2 separate regions of the Homo sapiens genome follow, and region 2 is linked to region 1. Evidence: fine-mapped expression QTL. A gene starts in region 1. The other region holds a variant in brackets. All regions are shown on one strand. Distances are from middle to middle. Region 1 holds the start of ZNF350 (zinc finger protein 350). Region 2 overlaps ZNF350 (zinc finger protein 350).

Evidence for each region. PIP is the estimated chance that this variant, and not a neighbour inherited with it, causes the effect.
Region 2: its variant is fine-mapped to the expression of ZNF350 in whole blood (TOPMed, PIP above 0.99).

Annotation. Positions count from the first base shown.
Region 1 is chr19:51,979,657-51,995,424 of GRCh38, forward strand. It overlaps ZNF350 (zinc finger protein 350), which reads right to left and starts at 7,184. Exons shown (of 5, transcript NM_021632.4): 1 at 7,114-7,184. ZNF615 (zinc finger protein 615) reads right to left here. Exons shown (of 7, transcript NM_001199324.2): 7 at 11,676-15,181. The coding sequence ends at 13,224. ZNF350-AS1 (ZNF350 antisense RNA 1) reads left to right here. Exons shown (of 3, transcript NR_103847.1): 3 at 1,271-1,711. RefSeq lists enhancers at 6,649-7,524, 7,111-7,350.
Region 2 is chr19:51,955,835-51,971,602 of GRCh38, forward strand. It overlaps ZNF350 (zinc finger protein 350), which reads right to left. Exons shown (of 5, transcript NM_021632.4): 3 at 13,171-13,297; 4 at 12,744-12,839; 5 at 8,506-10,380. The coding sequence ends at 9,020. All of the region lies in intron 1 of ZNF350-AS1 (ZNF350 antisense RNA 1), which reads left to right. Among named protein-coding and RNA genes, the nearest start is that of ZNF350-AS1, 15 kb to the left of the region's middle. The variant G/A (reference allele first, on the strand shown) is at 8,735.

The DNA.
Region 1 (15,768 bases):
ATTCCATTCAATAGTTCCTACCCCACTCTGTGGACCCAGTGTCTTGATCCACTGGCTAGTAAACAATATATGTCAACTGAAGACACTGTGGATTGGGAACCTAAAGGTCAATTAGATGGAAAAGGTGAAAGTCAGAAATCATGGCACAAACTTCACTGGCATTGGCGGCAAGCTTTTAATGCTTCTTCTTTATACAACAGCAGAATCCAATCCCAGTCTGCTGCTCAGATTGCTTGGCATGGAGCAGGCTTTAGCCCACCTCTTCCTCAGTTGCATTATCTGGGGAGGAAAGGACCAATTCAAGAAACTATATGGAAGGCAGCACTCCCATTTATGAATGGCAACATCTGGATTGGAACACTGTCTAATAATAGCAATAGTAAGCAACACAGTCTTAATGTTGCATTTGTAAAGAATATCACCACTCAGTTTACAGTTTGTGTTTTTAATCCTTATGCCTTTTTGGCAGCTAAGAAGAACCAGCTTCAGGTAAACAATACCCAATTGACCTGTAAATCTTGCCAGTTATATCACACTGCATTAATCATAGCACATTACGAACACATAATATCTCTACTTTGATAATGTTGGGTTGCATCCCTGGGCTATGGATTCTTGTTAATCTGTCTGAGCCTTGGGCTGCCACACCTGCTTTGCATTTTTGTAACACTTCTTCTAACTCAGCTTACTCACTGTGTCCATAGAGCCTTAGGCATAATTTTTGCTATTGTTTCCTTGGTCAAACTAATAACTTCTGTTGTGATATCTTCTGTAACTCTGCATAATTCTATTCAAACATCTCAGTAGGTGGAGAACTGGACACGCACAGCTGACCAAGCGAGGCTACTTCAGAATAAAATTAACACTGAGTTACAAACTGAAGTGGCAATGTTGAAATCCATGGTTCTGTGGTTAGGAGAACAGGTACAAAGCTTGCAGTTGCAGCAGCAATTGCGTCATCATTTTAATCACATTCATATTTGCGTAACTAACTCAGAATATAACCAAAGTGAGTATCCGTGGGACCTTGTGAAAGCCCATTTGCAAGGAGCTTTCACATCCAACATCACCTTTGATATTGGTGAATTACAAAACAAAATTATTGATTTAAATAGGCAAACTCAAGAATTTCAGCCTTCTTTAGAAGACTGGACCGAATTCCAGGAAGGCCTGGAGAGCCTCAACCCTTGGACCTATCTAAGGCACCACATTAACATCTTATATGTAGTTCTTGGAATAATGTTGTTTTGTCTCTGTCTTCGGTTTATAGTCTGTAAAATCGGATGGACCACCAATTGGAGAATGAGAGCCTCCCAGCCCAGCCTTACATTCTTTCAATTAATACATAAACAGAAAGGGGGATATGCAGGGAGCCAAAGGCCTGTGGGACGTGACCAACTCAGCATTCTGCTGGAGGCTATATGATCAAACAGCAAACTGTTTATCATGAATACAGGATGTGAGCAAACTCAGGACTGCTCCTGCCAACATAAGGTTTGCTGGAGGCAATCACTCCCTGGCACCGAGGTTATCTACTGCGACATCTAGAGAATGCAGTCTTGCAAGCCTACTCTGAACTGAGCAGCCGACCCCTTCTTCCACCCCCCCACCCTCCTATCTCTTTTGCCTAATAAATACGGAGGGCTGTGTAAAGCTCAGGGCCCTTGTCCACTAGAGGTAAGGTGCTCCCTGACCCCTTCTCCCAAATATACTCTTTTGTCTCCTGTCTTTATTCCCACGTTCACCCCCATTTGTGCAGTCCCATGGGTCCATGTGGGTTACGGCCCGCCACCGCGCCTGGCTGATTTTTGTATTTTTAGTAGAGATCGGATTTCAGCATCTTGGTCAGGCTGGCCTTCAACTCCGGATCTCATCACACACCCGCCTCAGCCTCCCCACATGCGGTTATTATAGTTGATATGTCTGAACCAAAATGATATGGGAAGCTTGAGAATAAAAGGTTGGAGACAATATGCCACAGAGAGAGTAACCAAAGATAATCTGTTATAACTATATCTCAGACAAAACTGACCAGAAATCCTAAAGAATTAACAGAGAGAAAGAGAAACAATGCTCACTGAAAAGAGGTGAAATTTGGCTCTTCATTCATAGAAATACACCATATGTATACCCCTAACAACAGTCTTGAAATGTATACAGCAAAAAATAGAACCAAAAACAAGAAATAGAAAATTCAGACTAAAGACTTTAACAGACCTTTCCTAGTAACTGACAGAACAGACCATCAACAAACAAAATAAAATTTATAAATGAGAAAGAAATGAATCTTTTATCTGAGGAATGTGACTCCCTTTAAATTATCAGGTCTAGAGAGGCATTAAAATGTGACAGCAGTCTTTCTGATAGGGGTTCCCCTGAAAAAAAGAAAAAAGAAAAAATTAAAAACTAAAAAAAAAATTTAATGTGACAATAGTCACATCTCATTTCCCCCTCAAGCTAAATAATTATCTCTTAAAGCCACTTGCTATGTAGGCTCTAGACTAACTCACACTGAGTAGCCATAAAATGCCATTCACTGGACATCCTAACTCATAAAACCCCATAGTTAACAATGTACAGCCAATTGTTAATTGATATTATTTCTGTAAACCAATGAGAATTCTTGCCAAACAACTTTATGTCAGCTCACGGTTTGTTCCCTTTTGACTTTAAAACCTGTTTCTAACAAAATCCTAACAGAGCACTTAACCAAGGCAACCTGAAAGTATTTTCCCAGGCAGCTGTCCTCATTTTGGCTCAAGTAAACTCTTTAAAATTGTATTTTGTGCAGTTTCCTCTTTTAGGCTGACATAAACGATATCATTTAGAAGAACTCGAATATATTTTTAAAATTAGATTTACTGAGATAAATTTTAACAGTTTTAAATAAATGCAAAGATGTACTATAAAGATGGGCTGGAAAACAAAGCATTTTAAAAATGTCAAGTCTCCCAAATCTACAGATTCAATGAAATCACAGTCACAATCCCAAACTGATACTGAAAAGTTTAAATAGCTATAAACTTTTTTTTAAAGTTTGAAAAAAAAGTTAGAAGACTTGCCATATCAGTTATGAGGACTTATAAAGCTACTTTAATTAGGACAGCACAATATTAGTACAATAACAGGCAAATAGGACAAAGGAACAGAATAAAATCCTTATAAGCAGAATTAAGCACATATAGAGACTCAATGGCAATGATAGCACTACAGGGAAGTAGATAAAAGCTGTCTTTTCAATAAATGGAACTAAGGGCGCCGTGGCTCACGCCTGTAATCCTAGCACTTTGGGAAGCTGAGGAAGGTGTGGGGGAAAGAGAGATCAGACTGTTACTGTGTCTATATAGAAAGAGGAAGACATAAGAAACTCCATTTTAATCTGTACAAAGAAAAGTTCCTCTGTCTTGAGATACTGTTAATCTGTAACCCTAGCCCCAACCCTGTGCTCAGAAACGTGTGCTGTGTTGGCTCAAGGTTTAATGGATTTAGGGCTGTGCAGGACGTGCTTTGTTAAAATGTGTTTGCAGGCAGTATGCTTGGTAAAAGTCATCACCATTCTCCAGTCTCAAGTACCCAGGGACACAATGCACTGCGGAAGGCCGCAGGGACCTCTGCCCAAGAAAGCCTGGGTATTGTCCAAGGTTTCCTCCCACTGATACAGCCTGAGATATGGTCTCGTGGGAAGGGAAAAACCTGACCATCTCCCAGCCCAACACTCGTAAAGGGTCTGTGCTGAGGAGGATTAGTGAAAGAGGAAGACCTCTTTACAGTTAAAATAAGAGAAAGCCATCTGTCTCCTGCTCCTCCCTGGGAATGGAATGTCCCGGTATAAAACCCAATCATACATTCTATTTACTAAGATAGGAGAAAACCACCTTATAACTAAAGGTGAGACATACTGGCGGCAATACTACTCTTTACTACACTAAGATGTCTGTGTAAAGTCAAACATAAATCTGGCCTACGTACACATCAAGGCACAGGACCTTTCCTTAAACTTATTTATAACACAGAGTCCTTTACTCACATGTTTTCCTACTGACCCTCTCCCCACCATTACCCTATAGTCCTGCCACACCCCCCTCACCAAGATGGTAAAAATAGTAATCAATAAATACTAACAAAACTCAGAGACCAGTGCCGGTGTGGGTCCCCCATATGCTGAACACCAGTCCCCTGGGCCCACTTTTCTTCCTCTGTACTTTCTCTCTGTGTCTGATTTCTTTTCTCAGTCTCTCATTTCCACCTTGCAAAAAATACCCACAGGTGTGGAGGGGCAGGCCCCCTTCAGGCAGGTGGACCACTTGAGCCAGAGTTGGAGACCAGCCTGGCCATCATGGTGAAACCCCATCTCTACTAAAAATACAAAAATTAGCCAGGCAAGGTGGCACCTGCTGGTAATTCCAGCTACTCGGGAGGCCGTGGCACAAGAATCACTTGAGCCCAGAAGGCAGAGGTTGCAGTTGAGCCAAGCACGCCACTACACTCCAGCCTGGGCGACGAGAGCAAGACTCTATCTAAAAAAATTAAAAAAAAAAAAAAAAATCAATAAATGGTACTGGGGATGGGGACAGAAAGTTAAAACCCCCCTCACAACATACACAAAAACCATTTTAGAATCAACTGTCAATTTCAATGGTAGAAACATATCAATAAAGCTTTAAAGAACATTAATATAGGAGAATCTCTCAATGTTATTAGGGTATGGCCAGATATTTTAAAGAGGCCACATAAAGCACCCTATAAAGCAAACTATATCCTGCTAGGGGAACTGTAAGTGGTACAACCACTTTAGAAAACAGTTTGACATCTATTTAGACGGAGTTTATACACACTCTATGAAGCAGCAATTTTCCTCCGAGGTGCACATCTAGATATACATCTCTGCCTCCCCCATATGAGAGCACATATGAACCAAAAGACATTTACACAAATTTTCACACATGCATTATTCTTAATAATACAAGCTTTAGGTAATACAAATGTAATTAATAATAGAAAAAACTGCTATATTTTACATAATGGAATGTGATAGAAAACCTATTATACCTTTGGTCCAGCCTGCAAGAATGCTTTTTACATTTTTGAAAGACTGTAAAACAAAAAGCAAATTAGCATATGCAAGAGACCATATGTAGCCTGCAAGCCCTAAAATATTTACTGTAAATTCGCCTGATCCTTGTCATTGAGCAAAGAAAATATACTCAGATGCAACAGGAAAGACCCTCACCAATAATGAGCAAAAGAAGGCTGACACAAAAAAAGAGTGATGTACAATTCCACTGATATACAGAGTTTAAAATAGGCAAAACTGTATTAACTACAATGATAAATAATGATTAATTATATAAAGAAAAGCCTAAAATACTTTTCGGTGTGAGAATGGAAAAAGACTCACAGAACACCACTGGTGTGCTGACCATATTCTATTTCTTGACCTGGGCAATGACTGCTTATACATATATTGCCTCCATGATAATTAAATTGTACATTTAAAATATATAAATGTAGAAAAATTAACAAAGTAAAGGAAGAGATCAACCATACCAAACAGTTTACCTCCAGGAAAGGTGTTAACTCCAGACAACACAACGGGTGAATTTTACAGGTGGGTAATAAAACAAGAACGTCCACTAACACCCTATTTTCCTACTTTATACTGGAAAGTTGAGCCAATGCATTAAGATAAGAATGAATTATAAGCATTACAAAGTAAGACAGAAAATTAATGTTATTTTCAGGCGATATCATCACGAACATGGAAAAAGAGATTCAAGAAATTACATATTTAAAAAAGAAAATGCTCCCTCAGAAACTCCCAGGCAGATTTTCACATACATAGTTGGCTAGAATTGCACCATACGCCTAAGCTCATTTCCATGTCAAACCTATCACTAGCAATGGCAATTGGAACCAGCAAGATTGGCTAAGACCAACAAGGCCTTACTAAGAAACTGGGATTTGGGTCGCCTTGCCACAGGGATGAATACTTCACGAAATGGAGATTCTGTTAAGAAAGTGTGAATATAAGGCGGGCAAGCAACACTCACTATATATTAAGAAGTGAAGGCCGGGCGCGGTGGCTCACGCCTGTAATCCCAGCACTTTGGAAAGCCAAGGTGGGCGGATCACCTGAGGTCAGGAGTTCGAGACCAACCTGCCCAACGTGGTAAAACCCTGTCTCTACTAAAAATACAAAAACTAGCCGGGCGTGGTGGCGTGGGCCTGTAGTCCCAGCTACTCAGGAGGCTGAGGCAGGAGAATCGCTTGAACCCGGGAGGCGGAGATTGCAGTGAGCCGAGATCGCGCCATTGCACTCCAGTCTGGGAGACAAAAGTGAAACTCCGTCTCAAAAAATAAAAAAAATAAATAAAAAATAAAAGAAGTGAATGCAGAGGTTGGCAACATTTTCGATTTTGCCGGCCACGAGGTCTCTGTCACAACAACTCAACCGCTGCCTTTGCAGCCATAGACAATATATAATCGGAGGGTATGACTGAACTTGACCCCCCGATCTGTAAATAGCCACCCCAAGGATCAGAAGAGTAGATATATGGTTTCGAACTAATGCTGGGGGCTGTGTCGCCTTTTGCCCCAGTAACCGAGGTTCGAACCTCAACCCAGGACCCAGGGCTCCAAAGTCTCGAAAGCTTCAGCCCTCACAAGCCTTTGTACCACAGACACTGGCCCCATGCCTCTTACTCATCCGAACCACGGACCAGACACTCTACAGCGATGGACATCCTCCCAGACTCCAACATCACTGAGTTCCAAATTAAATCCTGAACCCGAAGCAGACGCCGCATCGATCCTAATCGCCACCTCCATCCTTTACAAGCAGAGTGATCCATACCTTGACAGTTAGGACACGGCCGTTGATCACTACAGACCCTTAGTCACTGTACTCACACCAAAGGCACGCGGACCACAGACAGGGGGATCACAGACTCCCACCAGGTACCTCCCAAATGCCTATACCCCGGCGCTCCCCAGTCTTCCTGCCAAAAACTATGTGGTCCAGGGTACACCACGTCCTCAGATCTCCCAAACCTTCCACTGAGACAAAACCTGAACTAGGACAAAAAACTTTCAGGGACAAAACCACACACTGACCTCTATTTTCTCCAGATACACAAGAAGGGCCTCAACGTTACACTTCCGTAAACTGCTCCTACTTCTGGAGTCCTCGCACGGGTTTATGGTCCACCTACGGCGGCCGAGGAGAACCTAAAATGTTTAAAAGAGCAAGGACAAGCGCATTTACGGCATTTCCTACTCTGTAAAATGGCCGCGCCCATAGCCGTGGCTCCTGACGGCAGCCATGTTTGAAAATTGGACGCACAGAAGGCAGTGGCAGGTTTTTGAGCCAGGAGCCAGGGAAGAAGAGAAGTCACTGAAATCGCCTCGTTTCCTGGCACTTAAAGTCTTGCGAAAGGGGGCAGATTTTCAGAGACTCAGGCTTTATCAGGCAAATATGGGGCAAGCTAAATTGCCTTTAGCGCTTTTCCATCCACTTTGTTAAATTTAAAAAAAAAGGTTTTGAAAAAGACAAGTAACAGTGCAGCCAGGTGTAGGTATCCCAGAGAATGAATTGGAAATGGAAAAGGTAACAGATCAGGTAGAAAGGGAAAAGGCAACACATCAGGTAGGCAGACACCCACGGGAAAGCGTCTGGCGAAAATTAGCTTGCAGGAAGCGGTTTTTAAGAACAGAAAAATAGCAGGTATTCGGGGGGGCGGGTGGTGAAGAAAGAAAAAAATTATAATTTTTTTTGAGACGGAGTCTTGCTCTGTCGCCAGGCTGGAGTGCAGTGGCGAGATCTGGGCTCACTGCAACCTCTGCCTCCCTGGTTCAAGCGATTCTCCTGCCTTAGCCTCCCAAGTAGCTGGGACTACAGGCACGCGCCACCACGCCCAGCTAATTTTTGTATTTTTAGTAGAGACTGGCTTTCACCATGTTGGCCAAGATGATCTCGACCTCCTGACCTCGTGATCTGCCTGTCTCGGCCTCCCAAAGTGCTGGGATTACAGGTGTGAGCCACCGCGCCTGGCCTCGAAAAAATGATTATTATTTACAAAAAAGAAGAAGAAGAAGGAGGAAGAGGAGGAGGAGAAGGAAGAGAAAAGAGGAGAAAAGAAGAGAAAAGAGGAGAGGAGAGGAGAGAAAAGAGATTTTGAGAATGAATTACGATGTGAGCCTGGCCACGACAGACTAAAGGAATTGGGCCTCCTAGAAAGGCCACTTTTAGTAAAGGTGCCAATGGGAAGAGCAGAGCCAGAATTGAGAGTATAAAAATATTGTTAAGAGTTTTTGACAAAAGTGCCAAGACAATTCAATAAGAATAGTCTTTTCAACAAGCGGCACTGGGATAATTGGATATCCACATCCAGAAAAATGAGTTAGGACCCTCAAACCATACACAAAAGTTAACTCAAAATAGATCATAGATCTAAGTTTAAGAGAAAGTATAAAACTTAGAGAAGGAAAAGGGAGATAATCCTCATGGACGTGAGTTAATTCTGAGAGGAGAGTAAAGGATGACCCACAAAACAAAATAAAATTAATAAAGTGGACTTGATTTTTTTTTAAGTTTGTGCTTCTAAACACAACATTTAAGAAAGTGAAGTGGGGCACGGTGGCTCACACCTGTAATCCCAGCACTTTGGGAGGCCGAGGCAGGCGGATCATCTGAGGTCAGGAGTTCCAGACCAGCCTGGCCAACAAAGCGAAACCAGTCTCTACTAAAAATACAAAAATTACCCGGACGCGGTGGCGCGCGCCTGTAATCCCAGCTACTCGGGAGCCTGAGGCAGGAGAATCGCTTGAATCCGGGAGGCGGAGGTTGCAGTAAGCCGAGATCGCGCCACTGCACCCCAGCCTGGGCGACAGAGCAAGACTCCTCGGTAAAGACACCACTTCGTCACCCTGAATTACTCTGATTTTTATGGGTACAATGAGAATAGTGGACCTAGGAAGAAAAAGTTTTTAAATAGAAACCTTCAGGACAGATTTGGACTTGAAAGACTGACAGGAAGTGTTTCCAGCATCCAGTTAGTCTCAAAGCAACCACTAACCTTCAACTGCACACCTGAAAGCCTCCAGCCTCATTACATTCTCAAACACAGACAAGCCCCGTCTTCCTCTAAATAAAATTGCCTTCAAATTCAATTTAAAACTTACCACAGAGGCACTCCTTTGACACTCCTCCCCCTAGACCTTTCATTCACGCCACTCCTCTTCCTAGCTCGGGCTTCTCTGTATCTGAGCCCCATATTAAATTGCAAATCTGAGCAAAAAACAGCATTCACTGAGACACACTTTCCCCAGTTTTCTATTACTGAGACTCATGAAAAGTGAACATATAGACCTCAAGCTCTGTCCGTGGGACCCTCAGTCATTAAACTCTTAAAACTAAGCCTTAACCTTTGACATCCCAAGGGTCTCTTTCTCACACCCATATTCCTCGGTGACTAAACTGAAATAAAACCCCTGAACACGGACATTCACATGCGTTTCCACTTCATGGTCGTCCCCACAAGCTCCCCATCCGGATTCACACGCAGCATCAGGCTTTCAAGGCTACAGTAGCAGCTGCCAAAGGCTGAACACGTATCAGAACCTACTTCCGATTCTGGAATTCTGGTGCTGCAACCCCATCCTTCGCCATCTCTAAGAACACCGAGAGACTGGGAGGCGGGCTTCCGGAGAGGGATATGGGACATTTCCCAAAGTCCAGGTTCTGGCTTTGAACATTTTATATGAGGTAACATAGCTGTTTTACCTCATAGAGCATATTATGTCATTTCTGATGGGAGTGACCGTAGATTATTAGTGGAGTGATAGACACGCACATCAACAGAATAGAGTCAAGAAATGGACACAAGAACAGGCAACTGATTTTTACAAATGTTCAAAATCAATTTAATGGAAAGAGGACAGTGTTTTCAATACTGTTGAATCAACTGGGCAACCATAGGCTGAACTTTAAATTAACCCTTACCCTATATACAAAGATGAATTTAAATGGATATTGCTAAATATTAAAAAGCAAAACTGGCTGGGCGTGGTGTCTCACGCCTGCAATCCCAGCACTTTGGGAGGCTGAGGTGGCCAGATCACGAGGTCAGGAGATCAAGACCATCTTGGCCAACATGGTGAAACCCCGTCTCTACTAAAAATACAAAAATTAGCTGAGCATGCCGGTGCGTGCCTGTAATCCTAGCTACTTGGGAGGCTGAGGCAGGAGAATCACCTAAACCCAGGAGGCGGAGGTTGCAGTGAGCCAAGATCATGCCATTGAACTCCAGCCTGGGTGAGAGAGTGAGACTCTGTCTCAAAAAAAAAAAAAAAAAAAAAAAAAAAAAGAAGCAAAACTACATTATTTTGTCAAAGGAAGTGGAAAAAGAATTATCAATTACAGTAAGGAAGGAATACTTAGATGTAATGCCAAAACCCCACAATCCATTAAAAAAAAAAAGGCTGGGTGCAATGGCTCACACCTGTAATCCCAGCACTTTGGGAGGCCATGGTGGACAGATCACCTGAGGTCAGGAGTTTGAGCCCAGTTTGGCCAACACGGTGAAACCCCAATCTCTACAAAAGTACAAAAATTAGTGGGACATGATGGCAGGTGCCTGTAATCCCAGCTACTCGGGAGGCTGAGGCAGAAGAATCACTTGAACCTGGGAGGCAGAGGTTGCAGTGAGCCGAGATCATGCCATTGCACTCCAGCCTGGGCAAGACAGCAAGATTCCATCTCAAAAAAAAAAGTTGGACTTCATCATAATTAAAATCTTTTTCTCTGAGAGAAAAAAAGAAAGAACCACATCTATGGAAAAATATTTGCAAGTGATATAAAACCTTTATCCAGCTGGATAAAATCTTTATCCAGCATTAATAAACAATGCTCTAAGCAGCGCACAGTGGCAAATGCCTGCAGTCCCAGCTACTCTGGAGGCTGGGACAGAAAACTTCTCAAGACCAGGAGTTTGAGACTGTAGTGTGCTATAATGGTGCCTGTGAATAGCCACTGCACTCCAGCCTGAGCAACATAGTGAGACCTTGTCTCTTAAAAAAAAAAAAAAAAAAGCCTTTAGGGAGGTGCAAATGGAAGGCCACATACAATTGGTATGTTTGTATTCATACCAATACACACACAATAGAATAGGTAAAATAAAACATTCCAGTCCTGCGTGGTGGCTCACGCCTGTAATCCCAGCACTTCAGGAGGCTGAGGCGGGTGGATCACAAGGTCAGGAGTTCGAGACCAGCCTGGCCAAGATGATGAAACCCCGTCACTACTAAAAATACAAAAATTAGCCAGGCGCAGTGGCAGGCACCTGTAATCCCAGCTACTCAGGAGGCTGAAGCAGGAGAATCACTTGAACCCCGGAGGCAGAGGGTGCAGCAAGCCAAGATCGTGCCACTGCACTCTAGCCTGGTCAACAGAGCAAGACTACATCTCAAAACAAAACAATACAAAACAAAAAAAATACTGACAGCATCAAGTGGAAGAATGTGGAGCAACTGAACCTTTCTATATATTGTTGGTGAGCAATGAAACACCACTCTGGTTAGTATCTTACAAAGGTAAACATACACTTACCTTATGACCCATGAATCATACTCTGCAGTAATTATCCTAGAGAAGTAAAAAATTGTGCTCACACAAAGCCTGTGTGTACAAATGTTCATAGGATTTTTATTTGTAACAGTAAGAAAAACCGGGAACAAAACTAATGTCCTTCAGTGGGTGAATAAACAAATAGTGGTATATTCGTATCATAGATTATTAGTGGCCAATAAAAACAGAACAATGATATGCAGAACAACTTGGATGGATTTCAGGTTAATCTGCTTTAGTTGAAATAGCCAATACCAAAAGGGTACATGCTGTATGATTCCATTTTTATAACATGCTACTAATGACAAAACTAAAGATGAAAAGATTTCTGATTGCCAAGGGTTAGGGCTGAGGAGAGGTTGTGACTATAAACAAGGAGCATGAGGGAGTTTGCATTGATGCAACATTCTGAATCTCGATTACGGTGGTGGTGACATGAATCAATATATGTGTTAAGATTTCTTAAAGCTACATATAAAAAACAAACAAAAATGCATGCATGTTAAAACTGGTGATTTCCAAATAAATTCTGTAGTTAACAGTATTGTAACAATTTCACTTTCCTGTATTTGGTAATGAACTATGCTTATGTAAGTTGTTATCTTTGGAAGAAGCTGGGTTAAGGGCAAGAACTCTGGAATATTTTGGTAAGATTTTGTGAATCTAAACTTATTTCAAAATAAAAACTTACAAAAACATCTTATTTATATTAATTTCATAACACCTGATGTTACTTATAAACTTAAACATATTCAAGTATGGTCAATTACACTTATGAACTGAATATACTGTATCCAGTTTCATTCTGAAGTACTTTAGTTATTCTGAAATAACACAAACTTAGAACCAAAGAAATGCAGGAGCTAATCATATAATAAAATGAGGCAGGCATAAAATACTCCGGTATTATATACAATATTAAATTTTAGTTCGTGATTAGAGGAAGTCACAATTTAAAATGTATAAAATCAGTGACAAGGCAACTAGGAATATGGCTCAAGCTATCCTGTTCCCAAATGCACATGAGGCATATTATCTGTTAAGGTTAGAATTGTGACAGAAAGCTCTCATCCATCATTTTGCCAAGGCTTCTTTCCTTCATTAAATTCTCTGATATTTTCCTAAAAGTCTTCTACATTGAATGTTTTCATAAGTTTTTTCTGCATTATTTCCTAGCACACGATGAGGCAAAACATTTTACTGAAAACCCTGCCACAGGGGTTTGCCAGAGGAAAGTATTTCTCCAGTGTGAACTCTCTCAATCTGTTGAAGTTTTATTTTTGGGCAAAGACGTTCCTATAATTATTACATTTCCACGAATTAGTAGTTTATTCATGATCTATGATCACTTCTGAGGGGGTTTATCTTCCCACCAAAGGCTTTTATAGTCTGCCACATTCATAGGATTTTTCTCAGTATACAATTTTTAGACATAATGTCCTAAAATATTTTCTCAAATGTTTTGTACATGTTTTCTCTGACACAAAACATGAAGTAACTGATCACTAAATAAACAACCATGTAGTCTGCATTCATGAAATTACTCTTCTTTGCAGATATCTTAAGGGCCTACATCTGGCAAGAGGCTTTCCCAAAATGACTACCTGTGAATTCTCCTGTGTTTAACAAGGATAGACAAGTGCGCAAAAGCTTTCCCACAATCACTACATCCATAGGGCCTCTCTCCTGTATGTTTTCTTTGATGAACATTGAGCCCTGATTTTGTAGTGAAGGCTTTCCCGCAGTCACTGCATTTGTACGGTTTCTCTCCTGTGTGAATTCTCTGATGTGTAATAAGATCATTTTTGCGCAAAGAGAATTTTCCACATTCAGTACATGCAAAGGAAGTCTTTCCTGTGTGAAATCGCTGATGTTGTATGAGGCATGTCTTCTTCCTGAAGGTTTTATCACATTCATTGCATTTGTATGGCTTCTCTCCAGTATGAGTTTGCTGATGTATACTGAGAGTACTCTTCATGGTGAAGCCCTTTCCACATTCATTGCATATATAAGGTTTCTCCCCAGTATGAGTTCGCTGATGTGCAATGAGCATGCTTTTCCCAGTTAAGCCTTTGCCACATTCACTGCATACATAGGGTTTCTCTCCTGTATGAGTGCGCCGATGTACATTGAGATGACTCTTCTCAGTGAAGCCTTTTCCACACTCATTGCAAATATAAGGTTTCTCTCCTGTATGAGTTCGTTGATGTCCCATTAGCCGGATCTTTGCTGGAAAGCCTTTTCCACACTCACCACATACATAGGGTTTTTCTCCAGTATGAGTTCGCTGATGCACAATAAGGCGGCTCTTCACAGTGAAGCCTTTTCCACAATCATTGCATATATATGGCTTCTCTGCAGTATGAGTTCGCTGATGTACAATGAGGTCACTCTTCATGGTGAAACCTTTTCGACATTCGGTGCATACATAGGGTTTCTCTCCAGTATGTGTTCGCTGATGTCTGATGAGTGGGCTCTTCAAAGCGAAGCCCTTTCCACACTCATTGCATTTATAAGGTTTCTCTCCAGTATGAGTTCGTTGATGTACCATGAGACAGTGCTTCATTGAAAAGCCTTTTCCACATTCACTACATGTATATAATTTCTCTCCTGTATGAGTTTGCTGATGTGTGATAAGACTGTTCTTCAAGGTGAAGCCTTTCCCACATTTATTGCATATAAAGGGTTTCTCACCAGTATGAGTTCGATGATGTGCAGTAAGACGCCTCTTCTCAATGAAGCCTTTTCCACATTCACTACATATATAAGGTTTTTCTCCTGTATGAGTTTTCTGATGTGTAGTGAGACTGAACTTTGTAGAGAAGGCCTTCCCACATACACTGCATCCATGGGGTTTCTCTCCTGTATGAGTTCGTTGATGATAAATGAGCCGACACTTCTTGATGAAGGCTTTCCCACATTGGCTACATGTGTAAGGTTTCCCTCCCATATGAGTTTTCTGATGTATATTGAGCTGTGATTTCTTGAGGAAGGTTTTGTCACATTCAGTGCATTCATAATGTTTCAGTTCTGTATGAGTTCTCTGATGGTCCATTAGTCTGGATTTTCTGGAGAAAGCTTTCCCACACATACTGCATACATGAGGTTTTTCTCCAGTGTGAACTCTCTGATGATCAATAAACTGAGACAACTTGAGGAAGGCTTTCCCACATTCACTGCATACATGGGCATTCTCTATGTTGTGAGTTCTCTGTTGCTTAATGAACTGGGACTTATTAATAGGTTTTGCAATTGCAGGAAACTTCATTTCAGTATAAAATTGTTTATGGTTAGCATGAAAAAGGGATTTCCCATCTCTATTAAACTCAGCAGAGTTCTTTAGGCCAGAGCTCCTTTTCTGGTTTTCAAAACTTAAATTTGATTTTAAAGGTTTTTCATGTAAGTCAAACGTATCACAATCTTGCTTCAGCAGGAAATGACCTTTGTTCTGATTAACAATATTTCCAAACATATTCTGTTCATGGCACTGTTTCACACTCTTCTGAATACTTTGATTTTGCAAGTGATGCTGCAGAGGATCATCAATTTTCCTGATTTCTAGGAAAGAAGAGAACAGTCAATCACTCCATCATCTTGTTTTGAAATAAACTATTTAAACTATTTTTTAAAACTGCCTTGGTGTGAGGTGACTCTTTAGTGAAAACCCTATTTTATTTATTTATTTTTTTGTGAGCAATAAAGCTTTTTAATCACCTGGGTGCAGGCGGACTGAGTCCGAAAAAGGAGTCAGAAAAGGGTGATAAGGGGAGGGCAGTTTTATAGCATTTGGGTAGGTAGTGGAAAATTACAGCTAAAGGGGGTTGAAAACCCTATTTTAGTATAAAGGAAACTCCATGTATAAATATCCCTCATCTCTTACACATTGGGAGAGATGTGTAAGATTCCTTTTATCTCTTACACATAAAGGAAATTCCATGTATAAATATCCTTCATTTCTTACAAATAAAACACAATAATATAAACACACCGAAAAGTAAAAGCAACTGTACAAACAAGGCTAGATAATTCACAATGTATATAGATTTGGCTGCTTTCTAAATAGGTCTTTATACAATACACACATAGTCAAATATAAACAGGTCACTTTTTGCAGGGAACCCCAAAATTTGGCAGGATACCAGACC
Region 2 (15,768 bases), 24 kb before region 1:
TAATAAAGAGATAAGGTATCCATTTTTTATGGACTGGCCGGAAGAGGTTCAAGACCCTCTTTATTTATTTTCACAGTATTACAAAGTCACGAATGACTTCAAAGGTATATCTGTTGCCTGTATATAAATTAGCAGTTGTTCATTTTGCCAACTGACAAGCTCTAATTAGTGCTGTCAATTTGGCTTGTTCAGCAGAGATTGCTTCTAGAAGATAAGCACTTTCTATTTTTTCCCTTGGGATATTATAACATAACCTGCTTGTAAATTTGAGATTAATCTTTAAGTAAGATCTGTCTGTAAATCAAACCACACCAGTGTTACTAAGATGAGTTTCTTGCAGGTTTGTCCTAGGAGAGAAAAGCTGACCAGTTAAGGTTATGCAATCATGAGGCATTTCATCCAAATTTAGGGGGAGAAGAGTAGCAGAATTTAGGTTATTACATGTAGACATTGTCATATGAGGTCCAGAAAGAAGTAAGACTTCTAAAGGGACTAGCTTGCTAACTAAGTAATTCTGAGCATGAAGTGAATTTAGAAGTGCTTCCAGGCTGGCATGCTGGCTCATGCCTGTAATTCTAGCACTTTGGGAGGCCAAGGTGGGTAGATTCCTTGAACTCAGAAGTTCAAGACCAGCCTGGGCAACATGGTGAAACCCCATCTCTACTTAAAATACAAAAATTAGTCAGGGGTGGTGGCAGGCACCTATAGTCCCTGCTACTCAGAGGCTGAGGTGGGAGGATGGCTTGAGCCCAGGAGGCGGAGGTTGCAGTGAGCCAAAATCACACCACTGCAGTCCAGCCTGGGCAATAGAGCCAGACCCTGTCTCAAAAAAAAAAAAAAAAAAAAAAAAGATTATGCAATCACGAGGCATTTCATTCAAATTTAGGGGCAGTTTCATATGAGGTGAAGAAAGAAGTAGGACTTCTAAAGGGACCAGCCTGCTAACTAAATATTTCTGAGTATGGAGTGAATTTAGAAGTGCTTCCAGGCTGGGTGTGGTTGCTTATGCCTATAATCCTAGCACATTGCGAGGCTGAGGCAAGAGGCTCTCTTGAGCTCGGGAATTTGAGACCAGCCTGGGAAACATAAGGAGACACCCCTGCCTCCAGAAAAAAAATTTAAAACTTAGCCAGGCATGTTGGCATGCACCTGAAGTCCCACCTAGGTAGGAGGCTGAGGTGGGAAGATTGCTTGAGCCCAGGAGGTTTACCAGTAGGGTGATTGCTGTATTAACCCCATGCAGGCTGGTAGTCCTCTAGCCACTGAATCCAACTGCTGACTGTTGTATTATATAGGTCTCTTTTGAGCCCCATGTTTTTGGGTCATAATGCCTAGGGTATTTTCTTGATCTTCCTGTACAAACAACGTAAACAAAATAATTTGGATTTCCTAGTACTGGGGCATCTATAAGATCCTTTAAATTGTTCCTAACATTAATTGATTTTTCTCTGTCCAATCCAGAGAGTCTGCTTGTCTCATTTTAAAAGGGTATAGAAAGGTAAGCTTTTAATGAAAAATTCAGAATCTAATTTCTGCAATAATTTTCCAGTTCCAGAAATCCTCTTAGGTGTTTTCTTAGTTTTTAGGGTAAGCAAGGAAAATATTTGTTTTATTCTATTTGCATCAATAAAAAGGCTTTTCTTGGACAATAGATAACTCTAAATATTTTACTCATTGTAGACAGAACTCAAGATTTTTTATTGGAGACCCCATGTCTCTTTGAAAGCAATTTTTGTAACAAGTGAATCCCATCTTTTTGTAGCAGCTTTCTCATCTTCTGAACAAAGAAGGAAATCATCCACATATTGTATTAAAGTATAGTTTTCAAAAATGCAGCATATAAGACATTTGGTTTCAATATTTCTGAGAAATAAGTTGGACTCTGAGTATATTCCTGAGGCACAATCATCCATGTCCATTGTTTGTCTTTCCATGTGAAGCCAGTAGTGTGGGGGAAAGCAAGAGAGATCAGACTATTACTATATCTATGTAGAAAGAAAAAGACGTAACAAACTCCATTTTATTCCGTACTAAGAAAAATTCTTCTGCCTTGAGATGCTGTTAATCTGTAACCCTAGCCCCAACCTTGTGCTTGCAGAGACATGTGCTGTGTTGACTCAAGGTTTAATGGATTTAGGGCTGTGCAGGACGTGCTTTGTTAAAAATGTGTTTGAAGGTAGTATGCTTGGTAAAAGTCATCGCCATTCTCCAGTCTCAAGTACCCAGGGACACAATGCATTGCAGAAGGCCACAGGGACCTCTGCCCTAGAAAGCCTGGGTATTGTCCAAGGTTTCTCTCCACTGAGACAGCCTGAGATATGGCCTCATGGGAAGGGAAAGACCTGGCCATCCCCCAGCCTGACACCCATAAAGGGTCTGGGCTGAGGAGGATTCGTGAAAGAGGAAGATCTCTTTGCAGTTGAGATAAGAGGAAGGCATCTGTCTCCTGCTCATCCCTGGGAATGGAATATCTCAGTGTAAAACTTGATCATACATTCTATTTACTGAGATAGGAGAAAACTGCCTTATGGCTGGAGGTGAGATATGCTGGGGGCAATACTGCTCTTTACTGCACTGAGATGCTTGTGTAAAGTCAAACATAAATCTGGCCTACGTGCACATCAAGGCACACACAGCACCTTTCCTTAAACTTATTTATGACACAGAGTCCTTTGCTCACGTGTTTTCCTGCTGACCCTCTCCCCACCATTACCCTATAGTCCTGCCACATCCCCCTCACCGAGATTGTAAAGATAGTGATCAATAAATACTGAAGAAACTCAGAGACCAGTGCTGGCGTGGGTCCTCCATACGCTGAGTGCTGGTCCTCTGGGCCCACTGTTCTTTCTCTATACTTTGTCTCTGTGTCTTATTTCTTTTCTCAGTCTCTCATCCTACCTGACGAGAAACACCCACAGGTGTGGAGGGGCTGGCCCCCTTCAGCTGTACACAAGCAAACACCAGATTCTCCATTCTCAGGTTCCATTACTCTATGCTGTACATTTGATTCTTATTCCGCCCCTTCTGAGGTATCTTGTGGTCTTATACGCTACCAGGAATTTGCAAGTACTTTCCCTTCTTGTGAAGTGTTTGGCACACAGGAAAACATGAGGGAATATTAGTTACTATACTTGTCCTTTCATGAATCATTTGAAATGTCACTTCTTCAGACAGCATTCTGGGATGCCTCTCAGTTTTGTCTTATTTATAATAATGCAATCATTAAATATAAAATTGCAACTCTTAAGTGGGGCTAAGGAAGGGAACTATAGAAGGCATTCAATAGGGAAATAGAGGAAGCATCTCTCTTCCGGGAATAATTGAAGATCATTTTTCCTGATCATCATCATCTGCTCACTTAACTGCTGTTCAGAATGGACTGTGAGTTCCACAAAGGCAGAAGTCTATAATTTATTTTTAGCCCCAGTGCTCAGAACAAAAACTGGAACACAGCACTTCAATAATAAGACTATTGAACAAATAACCATATTTGGCTGACAGGCTACAGTCTTTCCTTCTTCACTTACCCTCAAGGTGCTGTGCTGCTGCTCAGTGATAATTAAACATAGAAAAGATGCAGCTGGGCGCGGTGCCTCACACCTGTAGTCCCAGCACTTTGGGAGGCCGAGGCGGTGTATCACGAGGTCAGGAGATAGAGACCATCCTGGCCAACATGGTGAAACCCCATCTCTATGAAAAATACAAAATAGTTGGCTGTGGTGGCACGTGCCTGTAGTCCCAGCTACTCAGGAGTCTGAGGCAGGAGAATCACTTGAACCTGGGAGGCGGAGGTTGCAGTGAGCTGAGATCGCACCACTGCACTCCAGCCTGGCAACAGAGCAAGACTCCGTCACAAACAAAACATAGAAAAGATGCAAAAGAGTGTATGCTGTATGCCACCTTTTGAAAAAAGGACAAATAAATAATATATACTTGTATTATAAAAAGAAACACTGGACGGATTCACAGTAAACATGTTTACCTGTAAAAGCTAGAAGGTCAGGGGAAAACTAGGATTGAGAACAGGATAAGATATTCACAAATGTGCTTTTTTGTACAGCTTTAAGTTTTGAATCGCATGACTATGTGACCTAGTCAAACTATTTCAGAGTAAAAATAAACAGCCAGTAGAGTCTCTATCGCCCTAGGAGTGGAGGCTGATCACAGGGTAATCTAAGGATGAGATCATAAAATAAAACAAACCCTCCAAGCAAAAAAAAAAAAAAAAAGTTTTAGATGCCAGAAAACATTTGAATCTACAGCCTGCCACTTGGCAGCTAAGTAGCTTGAAAGCTGTTGGAGCAACACTCCTTAATTCAACCAAATACTGTCTCAGCATCTGCGAGGTGCCTGATCTAGTGCCCAATGTTGGAGGTGAAATGATGAGGAAAAAACAGACCTGCTCTCTTGAAGGGGGCCAGCCCTTCCACCCCTGTGGATATTTCTCATCAGGTGGGATGAGAGACTGAGAAAAGAAAGAAGACACAGAGACAAAGTATAGAGAAAGAACAGTGGGCCCAGGGGACCGGCGCTCAGCATACAGAGGACCCACACCAGCACTGGTCTCTGAGTTCCCTCAGTATTTATTGATCACTATCTCTACCATCTCGGTGAGGGGGATATGGCAGGACTATAGGGTGATGGTGGGGAGAGGGTCAGCAGGAAAACATGTGAGCAAAGGACTCTGTGTCATAAATAAGTTTAAGGAAAGGTGCTGTGTGTGCCTTGTTGTGCACATAGGCCAGATTTATGTTTGACTTTACACAAACATCTCAGTGCAGTAAAGATCAGTATTGCCCCCAGCATGTCTCACCTCCGGCCATAAGGCGGTTTTCTCCTATCTCAGTAAACAAAATTTACGATTGGGTTTTACACTGAGACATTCCATTCCCAAGGACGAGCAGGAGACAGATGGCTTCCTCTTATCTCAACTGCAAAGAGGCCTTCCTGTTTTACTAATCCTCCAGGGCCCAAACCCTTTATGGGTGTCGGGCTGGGGGAGGGTCAAGTCTTTCCCTTCCCAAGAGGCCATATCTCAGGCTGTCTCAGTGGGGAGAAACCTTGGACAATACCCAGGCTTTCTAGGGCAGAGGTCCCTGTGGCCTTCCGCAGTGCATTGTGTCCCTGGGTACTCGAGACTGGGGAATGGTGATGACTTTTACCAAGCATACTGCCTGCAAACACATTTTAACAAAGCACATCCTGCACAGCCCTAAATCCATTAAACCTTGAGTCAACACAGCACATGTTTCTGTGAGCACAAGGTTGGGGCTAGGGTTACAGATTAACAGCATCTCAAGGCAGAAGAATTTCTTAGTACAGAACAAAATGGAGTTCCTTATGTCTACTTTCTTCATAGACACAGTAACAGTCTGATCTCTCTTTCTTTTCCCCACACTCTCTGCCTTCAGGAAGTTTAGAATCCAGATGGGGAATGCACATGGAAATCTACAAAATGTTAAACTGCAGTTCCCCTAAGTGCTAGGAAGAAGAGGAACACGATCCTATGGAAGGCCAGACTGGTGAGGGAAAGTTGCTCTGAATTAGTGATGTTTGAAGATCCTGAAGGAGGAAAAATGCAGAAAATGGGGGGAAAGAAAAGTTCAGGCAGAAGAAAGAGCATGCACAGAGGCCTGAAGGTGATGAAAGGATGTCAGCAGCATATGAGGGGCCAAAAGAGGGCCAGTGTGTCAGAACAGGGAGAGCAAGGTGGAGTATGGGAGAGGGAAGAAAGAACCGGAACATGCAGACTTGATGGCCATTTTAAGGATGTTTGCCATTGTCCAGACCCCAAGCAGAACAGTCATTGCAAGTTTCAAAGTTTAAAGCTAGAGAGTTTCATAATCACAGCTCTATTAAGCTTAAAAAGTATGCTATATGAGGAATCCTTGGCTCAGTGCGTGGCAACCTTTTTGTCATCAAGTCACAGTTTTGATTAAGTTCAGGCACACCTATACTCTTGATTCCTCCTCTTCCCCTCACTGGGACTAATAACATTACTTGTATTAATTGTGTTTCTTGCTAGACACTGTTTTAAGGACTTTACATTTACTTCTCACAACAAACCTGAGGCAGATATTTTAAAGCTAAAGTCAAGACCTTGGTAAATTAGTTGCTCTATGGCACATGGCTTGGGCATGGCAGGGCAGGATTCAAACTAAGCAGTGTGACTTCAGGATACATTCCAAATCACTATGCAGGACTGCCTCTTGGCCCAGGAGGGACTGAGGTCATGGGAGCAGATGAAGGGTGATCTTCAGTGAAACTATAAGGATCTTGGGTTTGGGAGCAGACATGATGTGTACCAAGCTTAGGTATGCACTGAGCCTCCTTCATCTGGGAGGTCAAGCTCTGAAAGGTACGTTAAGCAATTGCTCAGGGTAGGCCTGGCCAACTCATCCTTAGACCCTGATAGAGCATAAGCAACCTGACCTTACCATGGAAGGATGTGCAGATTCACAAAGGCCAGATGTGGATAGGGCCTGGTTGGTGGAGCGCCCATTTCTGATTCTTTGCTGGAGAGTATCTGCTCTGAATCTATCCCATTATAATGTGGGGGTAATGATGGGGCACTAATCCAGGATTTAGGGCAAAGATGCACAAAATTAGGTGTGCACCAGAAAGCCCTCATTACAAATGCAGAGTGCCAGGTTCCAGCCCCAGAGGATCTGGTTTAGGAAGTCTAGGGGTGACTCAGGGATTTGCATCTTTTTAAATTTCTGAGAGACTTGCGGCAAGAAGCTCACAGACAATTACAAATACTCCTGGAGTATTCTGTGCTTACAAATGCTGTAACAGGCTCTCCTCAGTACACTTAGGTCTTGGCTCAAATTACATCCAGAAAAGCCTTCCCTTGGAGAAAAAAAATAACATATTTTTAAAAGCCCCCATCACTACGTATGCATTAGTATCCACTACTAGTCTTTTTCTCCTTCCTAACATCGTACAATCTGTTTCTCTGCCTCACTCAATGGTAAAGTTTATAAAGGTTATTCCTTTGCCTGTATTGTTCACCGATCCATCCTACTGTATCTAAAACAGTGCCTTGCACAGTGATGATATATAAAAGTTACTTAGTGGCCAGGCGCAGTGGCTCATGCCTGTAATCCCAGCATTTGGGAGGCCGAAGTGGGTGAATCACGAGGTCAGGAGTTTGAGACCAGCCTGGCAAACATGGTGAAAGTCCATCTCTACTACAAATACAAAAAATTAGCTGGGCGTGGTGGCAGGCACCTGTAATCCCAGCTACTCGGGAGGCTAAGGCAGGAGAATCGCTTGATCCCGGGAGGCAAAGTTTGCAGTGAGCTGAGTTCGTGCCACTGCATTCCATCCTGGGCGACAGAGCAAGGCTCCATCTCAAAAAAAAGGTTACCTAGTAACCCAGGATTTCTGTTGAATTCTGACCTAGCCACAAGGCAAATTTCCATTTATTTTCCTATGAGCAGCACTTACTGTAACTTGGACAGTGTATCCATATGGGATGAAGGTTAAAAAACCAGATAAAGAAGGCCAAGAGACCTACTCCCAGAAAAGTGAGAATGATGAAGATAAATCATGTCTCAAAAAAAAAAAAAAGAAAAGAAAAATCACATCTCAGTTCAGCAGGTCACAGAGAAGCTGGGATCTCTGAAATGGTAACCCTAGCGGGTGATAGGTCTTATGGACAAATAAAAGCGTCATCTCTAAGACGTCCCAAAAGAAACCCACCTCCTCCCATCTGTTACAGTCTCATCCATTCTCAGAGACTAAGATTTTCCTCCTCCTTTGTGTTCTACTTATTCTAAGAGTCCTTTTCCTTTTCTGCTCTGCCCCTTTTATATTTGGCTAAGTCTTTCTAATCACACAAAAGTTGTGAGTGACAATTCTATTCTTTACAACTGTCATTCCCTTCAATGACAAAATACGCTTCTCTTTCCAAATCATTCTCTCTCCAAATCAATACATAATTAGTTTTTGTTTTTCTATGTGTTGGGAAATATTAGATCATGCAAAGCAGCCTCTCCAGCATAACTTTCTGGGATGTTGGAAATAATGACAAAGAGTCCTCATTGTCTGAAAGTTCTGTTCACTCTGCTGTCCAGTTTAGTAGCCTCTACTCACATATACAGCTCTTGAGCAGTGAGGGAACTGAATTTTTAAATTTTGTGTTCAGTTTCTTTAATTCTAAAATTTAAGTAGCTACAAAACTTAGCAGGGAATTTGTAATCTCTTGGAGAGATAAGACACGGGCAAAAACAAACAAACAAAAAGCCCTCCTTTTTGTACTAAGGTGCTTAAGTACCATTAACAGCAGTCCTTCTGCTACTCCTTGAACAATAAATTATCGCGTCCCCTGGACACAGTTACTCCATGTCCATTTCACCTAATGTAGATATTTGCACCGCCTGACTAGATTGCCTGAGTGTAATGATACCACTTAAAATTAACCCCACAAACTCTCCAGGAGACCACAAACTTTTTCTTCTTTGACCTCAGCTCCTGGAACAGGACAAGGTACAAAGGAAATAATTTTAAAATATTTGTTTAATGAAACAAATTGACTAGTTTCACAGATCCCTCTGCATAATACAAAGTTCTGAAAGTTTATGGTCCTGGTTTTCAATTAATCCTCCACACTGGCACTGGTCTAAGGAAACTGAATTGACACATATGTGTCCCACATTCCACCATTACAGTATTAGCCCTTTCCCACCAACTGCCCCTTATGAAGCTTTTCAGTCACTGCAACACTCCC[G/A]ACACCAATTATCTCATCTGTTTTAAAAATTCACAGTACTTCATTTCCTCCACTTAAAAGTACTTGGGCTTCCTTTACTCATTTAATTGACACAGTCGAGCAATTGCTGTGTATGTGCTTAGGTTAACATCAAATTTGCCTGTGTATCACAGCATACATTTTAATAGGATGAGTTTATCAGGCTATCTCAGCCTTATACATGTTCTCTCAGTGTATGCTTTTCGGCCACATAATGAACTACAAATTTTTGCTCAACCCTTTTCCACATAGATCTGAGTTTTCTTCCTATGGGTTTTCTGTAACATAAAATAAGACATAATTGATCACGGAAGGCACAACCACATTCACTGCATTCACAAGGTTTCTGTCCTGTGCAAATCCTCTGTTATCTCCTGAGGCTGCACATCTGACCACTGGCTGTCCCACAAGGACTACGTTCCTGTTTGCGAGGAGGCCGCTGATGTTTAATGATGTCTGAGGGGCCACAGAAGGCACTTGTGTAGTCGCCCCGTTAGCAGAGTTTTTCTCCTGCATGACATCACTGGTGTGTAATGAGCTGTGCCTCTCTGCAGGAGGATTTTCCACCTTGGCTGCCTCTTGTTTCTCCCTTGTGTGTATTCTCTTATGCTTAACCAGACACGACATATACGCAAACGCTTTCCCACACTCGTTACAGCCATAGGGTCTCTCTCCTGTATGAGTCCTTTGATGGACAATGAGCTTTTGCTTTGTGCTAAAGGCTTTCCCACATTCACTACATTCAAAGGGTTTCTCTCCTGTGTGAATTCTTTGATGTTTAATGAGACCTGATTTCTGAGAACAGGATTTTCCACATTCACTGCACACAAAGGGCGTCTTTCCTGTGTGAAATCTCTGATGTGCTATGAGACACGTCTTCTGAATGAAGCCTTTTCCACATTCATTGCATATATAAGGTTTCTCACCTGTATGAATTCGCTGGTGTACAATGAGATTTCCTTTCTGGATGAAGCCTTTTCCACATTCACTGCATATATAGGGTTTCTCTCCGGTATGTGTTTTCTGATGTATGTTGAGCCGTGATTTCTTGAGAAAGGCTTTGCCACATTCAGGGCATTCATAAGGTTTTTCTCCTGTATGAGTTCGCTGATGTTCAGTAAGCATGAACTTTCTGGAGAAGGCTTTCTCACATAGACTACATCTGTGGGGTTTCTCTCCTGTATGCATTACCTGGTGATCAGTTAGCCAAGACTTCTTGATGAAGGCTTTCCCACATTCACTGCACACATGATGCTTCTCTAATTTTCGTGTTTTCTGATGCTTGGGACTGATGAATTGGGACTTAGTGCTGATGAGTTTTTGACTTGCAGGGAATTTAATTGCAGTATGAAGTCGTTCATGGTTAGCATGAAGAAAGGAGTCCCCATTTCCAGTAAACTCAACAGAGTTCTTTATTTCATAGCCTTTGCTCTGGTTAACTAAAGTTAAATTGGATTTCAAACTTTTTCCACGTAAGTCAAATATATCATGATTTTGCCCTAACAGAAACTGACTTTTGCTGCAATGAACAATATTTTCAAATGCATCATGTTCATGACATGGTTTCCTTCTGTTCACCAGGCTTTCACTCTGCAAGCGCTCCAGCACATGATCAACTTTCCATATGTCTAGAAAGAAAAGAACAAAGATTTCTATCATTTAGATTTGGGGTAAAAGTTTGTTGTGGTTTTTTTGTTTTTTTTGTTTTTTTTTTTAAGATGGAGTTTTACTCCGTTGTCCAGGCTGGAGTGCAATGCTGCGATCTCAGCTCACTGCAACCTCTGCTTCCCGGGTTCAAGGGATTCTCCTGCCTCAGCCTCCCAAGTTGCTGGGATTACAGGTGCCTGCTACCATGCCCGGCTAATTTTTGTAGTTTTACTACAGACGGGGTCTCACCATGTTGGCCAGGCTGGTCTCGAACTCCTGACCTCAGGTGAGCCATTGTGCTCAGCCAAAGTATTTTTTGTTTTGTTTTGTTTTTGGGAGACGGAGTCTCACTCTGTCGCCCAGGCTGGAGTGCAGTGGTACAATCCCGGCTCACAGCCAAAGTATTTTTTGTTGTTTTTTTTTTGTTTTTTGGGGACGGAGTCTCACTCTGTAGCCCAGGCTGGAGTGCAGTGACATGATCCCGGCTCACTGCAACCTCCACCTCCTGAGTTCAAGCGATTCTCCTGCCTCAGCCTCCCGAGTAGCTGGGATTACAGGCATGCACCACCGCACCCAGCTAATTCTGTATATTTAGTAGAGACGGCGTTTCACCATGTTAGCCAGGCTGATCTCGAACTCCCGACCTCAGGTGATCTGCCCGCTTCAGTCTCCCAAAGTTCTGGGATTACAGGTGTGAGCCGCTGCACCCGGCCCCAAAGTATTCTTTTTTTTAATGCCTTGATGTGAGGTGTCTCTTAGTAATAACCCTATGACCTGAGTGTAAATAAAACTCCATGTTTAATGTTCCTTGCACATTGGCAAAAAGTAATAGTATAAACAAACTAAAAGGTGAAAGCAGTTAGCATAAAACAAGGTTAGATCACTAATAATAAAGACAGATTTGGCTGCTTTCTAAATGTGCCTTGCAAAACAGACCTTAAAATACAAGCAATTCACTGTGACCAGCAGACCAGAGGCTGGAGGCCCATTTCGTCCAAAGAACAGATTCATTCATTCCACATACTCTTACTGAATGATCACCGTGTGCCAGGTATGGTGCTGGTGTTGGGGATAGGCACAAGAATCGCTTGAATCCAGGAGGTGGAGGTTGCGGTGAGCCAAGTTCACACCATTGCGCTCCAGCCTGGGCACAGAGCAAGACTCTGTCTTAAAAAAAAAATAAATTAATAAAAATAAATAATAATAATGAATAATTTTTAAGGGAATGAGTCAGGGAAGTAATCATATGTGTGGAACACACCAGGCAGGGTTTAGGAAAGAGGATGGAAATCTCTTTGTGAGCAAGATGGTATTATATCACAGAGATCACTGAAATGAGAAATTTGACAGGTAACATGGTTTACTGGGACTTGGTGTCATCAGAATACGATGGGGAAAAAAACGAAAGCAAATTATTAAATACAGAAAGGAACCAAATGGAAGTAGGCGGGAGTTGAGAATGTAGGATGTTAAAAAAATGACTTTTTTACTTAGAGATGCATCATGACTAGCAGAGACCTTTAAAGAAGAGAGCTCTTCAGGCAGGTAATACCCAGATGGCCAAGATTCAGGATGTACAGGAACAAACGAAAATCCAAACTTAATGGTTTTCTTGGAGGAAAGATGATTCTAGTTCCTTGCAGTTACTAGGAACTCAGGGGAGAGTTGCCATGAAGTAAATTACACAGAACTAAAATCTGTGTTAGATAACAACAGGGAGATGTCAGTTTGGGACTCTCCTCCAGGGAGCGGAAGGAGTTTAAACTTACTAGAATGAAGGCAATTTTGAAGAGTGAAGGGCACAGATGAGAAAATGGAGAACGGGACCTTTGGAGAACCTAAGAATAAGGAAAAAGAGAAGCGAAGGAAGCCAAGGCACAGCGAAAGTCCAGTTTACCCTGAGGAAGCCACATCCATCACAGGGGAGGTGTTAGGAGGGGAGGTCAGCATTAGCCAAGGGGCACAAAGGGGTGGGAGTCCGAAAACAGTGAGGACTTCAAAGTTTCCTCTTTGGAAAGAGGCCTGGAAGGTGGAATTTCGTAACAAGAGAGGTGGAACAACATGAAGAAGGGAAATACTTGAAACCCGAGGAAGAAGAAAATTATGCAGGCAAACAAACAATATGTAGATAAAATAATCAGATCTCTGAGGAGATAAAGAGTTTTTGTTTTGTTTTGTTTTTTTTTAACTCTAAATTCCTACAAAGAAAAACTGGTCTCACACTGGGAGACAGATGAGTAGAGGAACTGTTTACATATCCTCAAACCCCCTTCACAGCTGTGCTGCCTTCTCTGACTGTCTAGAATGTGACTTCCATAGCCTTCTGTCTTGTGGGTTCTCTCACCTGAACAGGCTCCACTGTGGATTCCATCTTCAATTGTCCACAGTTGTTCTCCTTGTTCCAACTTGAAGAGTGCATCCGGTTTGCTGGCTTGATACCCTGTTCATGGAAAATGATAGAGGACTTAGACATATCAAATTGGGCTGGCAATGTCAAGAAGGAAGAATGTTACATTTCAAGAAACTTGAGTTTCTTAAAATACCCAAAATTTAGTTTCTTATCTGAAACTATGAAAGTTTCGTTTCATATCTGTAACATCAAGGTTTTTCTCTTACAAGAGGGTAGATTACACCGTCTTGTGTGGGAGCAAGAGAAGGATCTGAGAATCTACCACTTCAGAGTACTGCAGGCATTCCAAAGAGGTAGGCATCTGAGAAAGGAAGGCCACTGACTAGGCACCCTCTGAGTGACACAGGGCAGCTGTCCTCACCCACTGCCACCAGGTTGCTGTAGTTCTCCAACATCACATCCCGGTACAGGTCCTTCTGAGCAGCGCCCAGGAGTTGCCACTCCTCCCAAGTGAAGTCCACAGCCACATCCTCCAGTGTTATGGATTCCTGTAATAACAGTCCTGTTTAATAAAGTGATGTCTTTTTGATGATGTGGAAGAAATGCTAAAGTTTTTCTGCTCATTTCCACTCTACAGGCTGTGTGCATATACCAAATAGTTTTTTTTTTAATACAATGTGGAAGAAGTAAAGTCCTAATATAATATTCTGTAACTGTATATTCAGTCATCCTCCATTCACCCAATTGGAAGTTTCTATAAAGTGTAGAAGTTAAATCTTGCTAACCTAAAAACAATATATTTATACATTTTATATATGTAAATATATATGAATATATGTACATATATTTATTTTAGATACATGCAAATGAAAGACATATATACAGCCATCCTTTAGTATCTGTAGGGTATTGGTTCCAGGACCTCCTGAGGATACTGAGGTGTCTGATATAAAATGGCACAGTATTGGTCAGGCACAGTAGATCACACCTGTAATCCCAGCACTTTCGGAGGCCAAGGCAGGAGGGTCACTCGAGCCCAGGAGTTCAAGACCAGCCTGGGCAACATGAGACCCCATCTGTACAAAAAATTAAAAAATTAGCTAGGCACAGTGGTGAGTGCCTGTGGTCCCAGCTACTTGGGAGGCTGAGGCAGGAGGCTCATTTGAGCCTAGGAGTTAGAGACTACACTGAGTTATGACCATGCTACTGCACTGCAGCCTAAGCAACAGAGCAAGACTGTCTCTAATAAAATAAAATAAAATGGAATAGTACTTGCAGATTTGCATGTAACCCATGCACATCCTCCCATATACATTTCTGTTTTTTTGAAATGGAGACTCACTCTCTTTCCCAGGCTGGGGTGCAGTGGCATAATCTCAGCTCACTGCAACCTCCGCCTCCCAGGAGCAGGCAATTCTTCTGCCCCAGCCTCCCAAGTAGCTAGGACTACAGGCATGTGACACTACGCCTGGCTAATTTTTTTTTTTTTTTTTTTGAGACGGAGTTTTGCTCCTCTTTCCCAGGCTGGAGTGCAATGGTACAATCTTGGCTCACTGCAACCTCCGCCTCCCAGGTTCAAGCGATTCTCCTGCCTCAGCCTCCCGAGTAGCTAGGATTACAGGTGCCCGCCACCACAACCAGCTAATTTTTTGTATTTTTAGTAGAGATGGGGTTTCACTATGTTGGCCAGGCTGTTCTCAAACTCCTGACCTTAGACGATCCACCCACCTCAGCCTCCCAAAGTGCTGGAGTTACAGGAGTGAGCCACCGTGCCCAGCCCCATATACTTTAAATTATCTTTAGATTACTTATAATATCTAATACAATGTAAATGGTATGTTAACAGTTGTTATACTATATTGTTTAGGGAATCATGACAATAAAAAAGTCTGTATGTGCTCAGTTCAGATGCTTAAAAAATATATATTTTCAATCCTCAGTTGGTTGAATCCATGGATGTGGAAGCCATGGATATGGAGGGCCAACCATATATCACAAATCCAGGCCTCCTATTTTTCTGATGGACTAATTATAAACTGAGGGTTCCTATGACCTCCTTGAGTTTGATAATTTCTCAAGAAGAAGGAGAAAATCAAGTAATGGAGAAACAATATCCAAAGATCTAACACTGAAAATTTTTCAGAACTGATTAAACACTCCAAAATTCAAACTCAAGAAATCCAACAACTTTTCAAGCAAGAAGTCTACACGTAGGCACAACAGATTGAAACTAAATTACACCAGATACAAAGGGAGACTATAAAAAAATCCAAAGACCAATGACAGGTTACCTACAAAGGAGACAAAATTTTCTGACAGCTGACTGCTCCACAGAAATCATTATAGCCAATAAATATTGGAACAATAAATGTAAGGTCCTCAGCTCTTGGACAACACAGCCCAACCTTGAAGACCATTTAGGACTGAAAGGCATGGCTGGCAAAGGACCTACAGCCCTGTAATAGTGACAATTAAGACTACTTATCAATGAATTGTCAATCTCTTGTCTCAGGATGCAGGATGGCTTTAAAGGATACTGCTGGTGGGAAATTGAGTCATTGAAGACCCAGGGAACAGCAGAAGGTACACTCTATACTCATTTTATTACAGAGGCCAGTGAACACACTTGGTAGATGATACAAGTACTTAATCCTGGTTGGTTTACCCATTCTAAATTATTTATGTGAGATAGCTATCTATTTGGAAAAAAGTAAAGTGAAAGTCTTACCTCAATCCACACTCAAAAATAGTTTACTATATGACAGATCTATGGCAGGCAGATTTGATGGCTCAATGAACTCCACCCTCCCAGTGTTCACACCTTTATGTAGTTCCCACTTACAGGGAGCCAAAGGTCCGTGGGACGTGACCAACTCAGCATTCCACTGGAGGCTATATGATCAAACAGCAAACTGTTTATCATGAATGCAGGATGTGAGCAAACTCACCATTGCTCCTGCCGACAGAAGGTTTTCTGGAGGCAATCACTCCCTGGTGCTGAGGTTATCTACTGCAACAT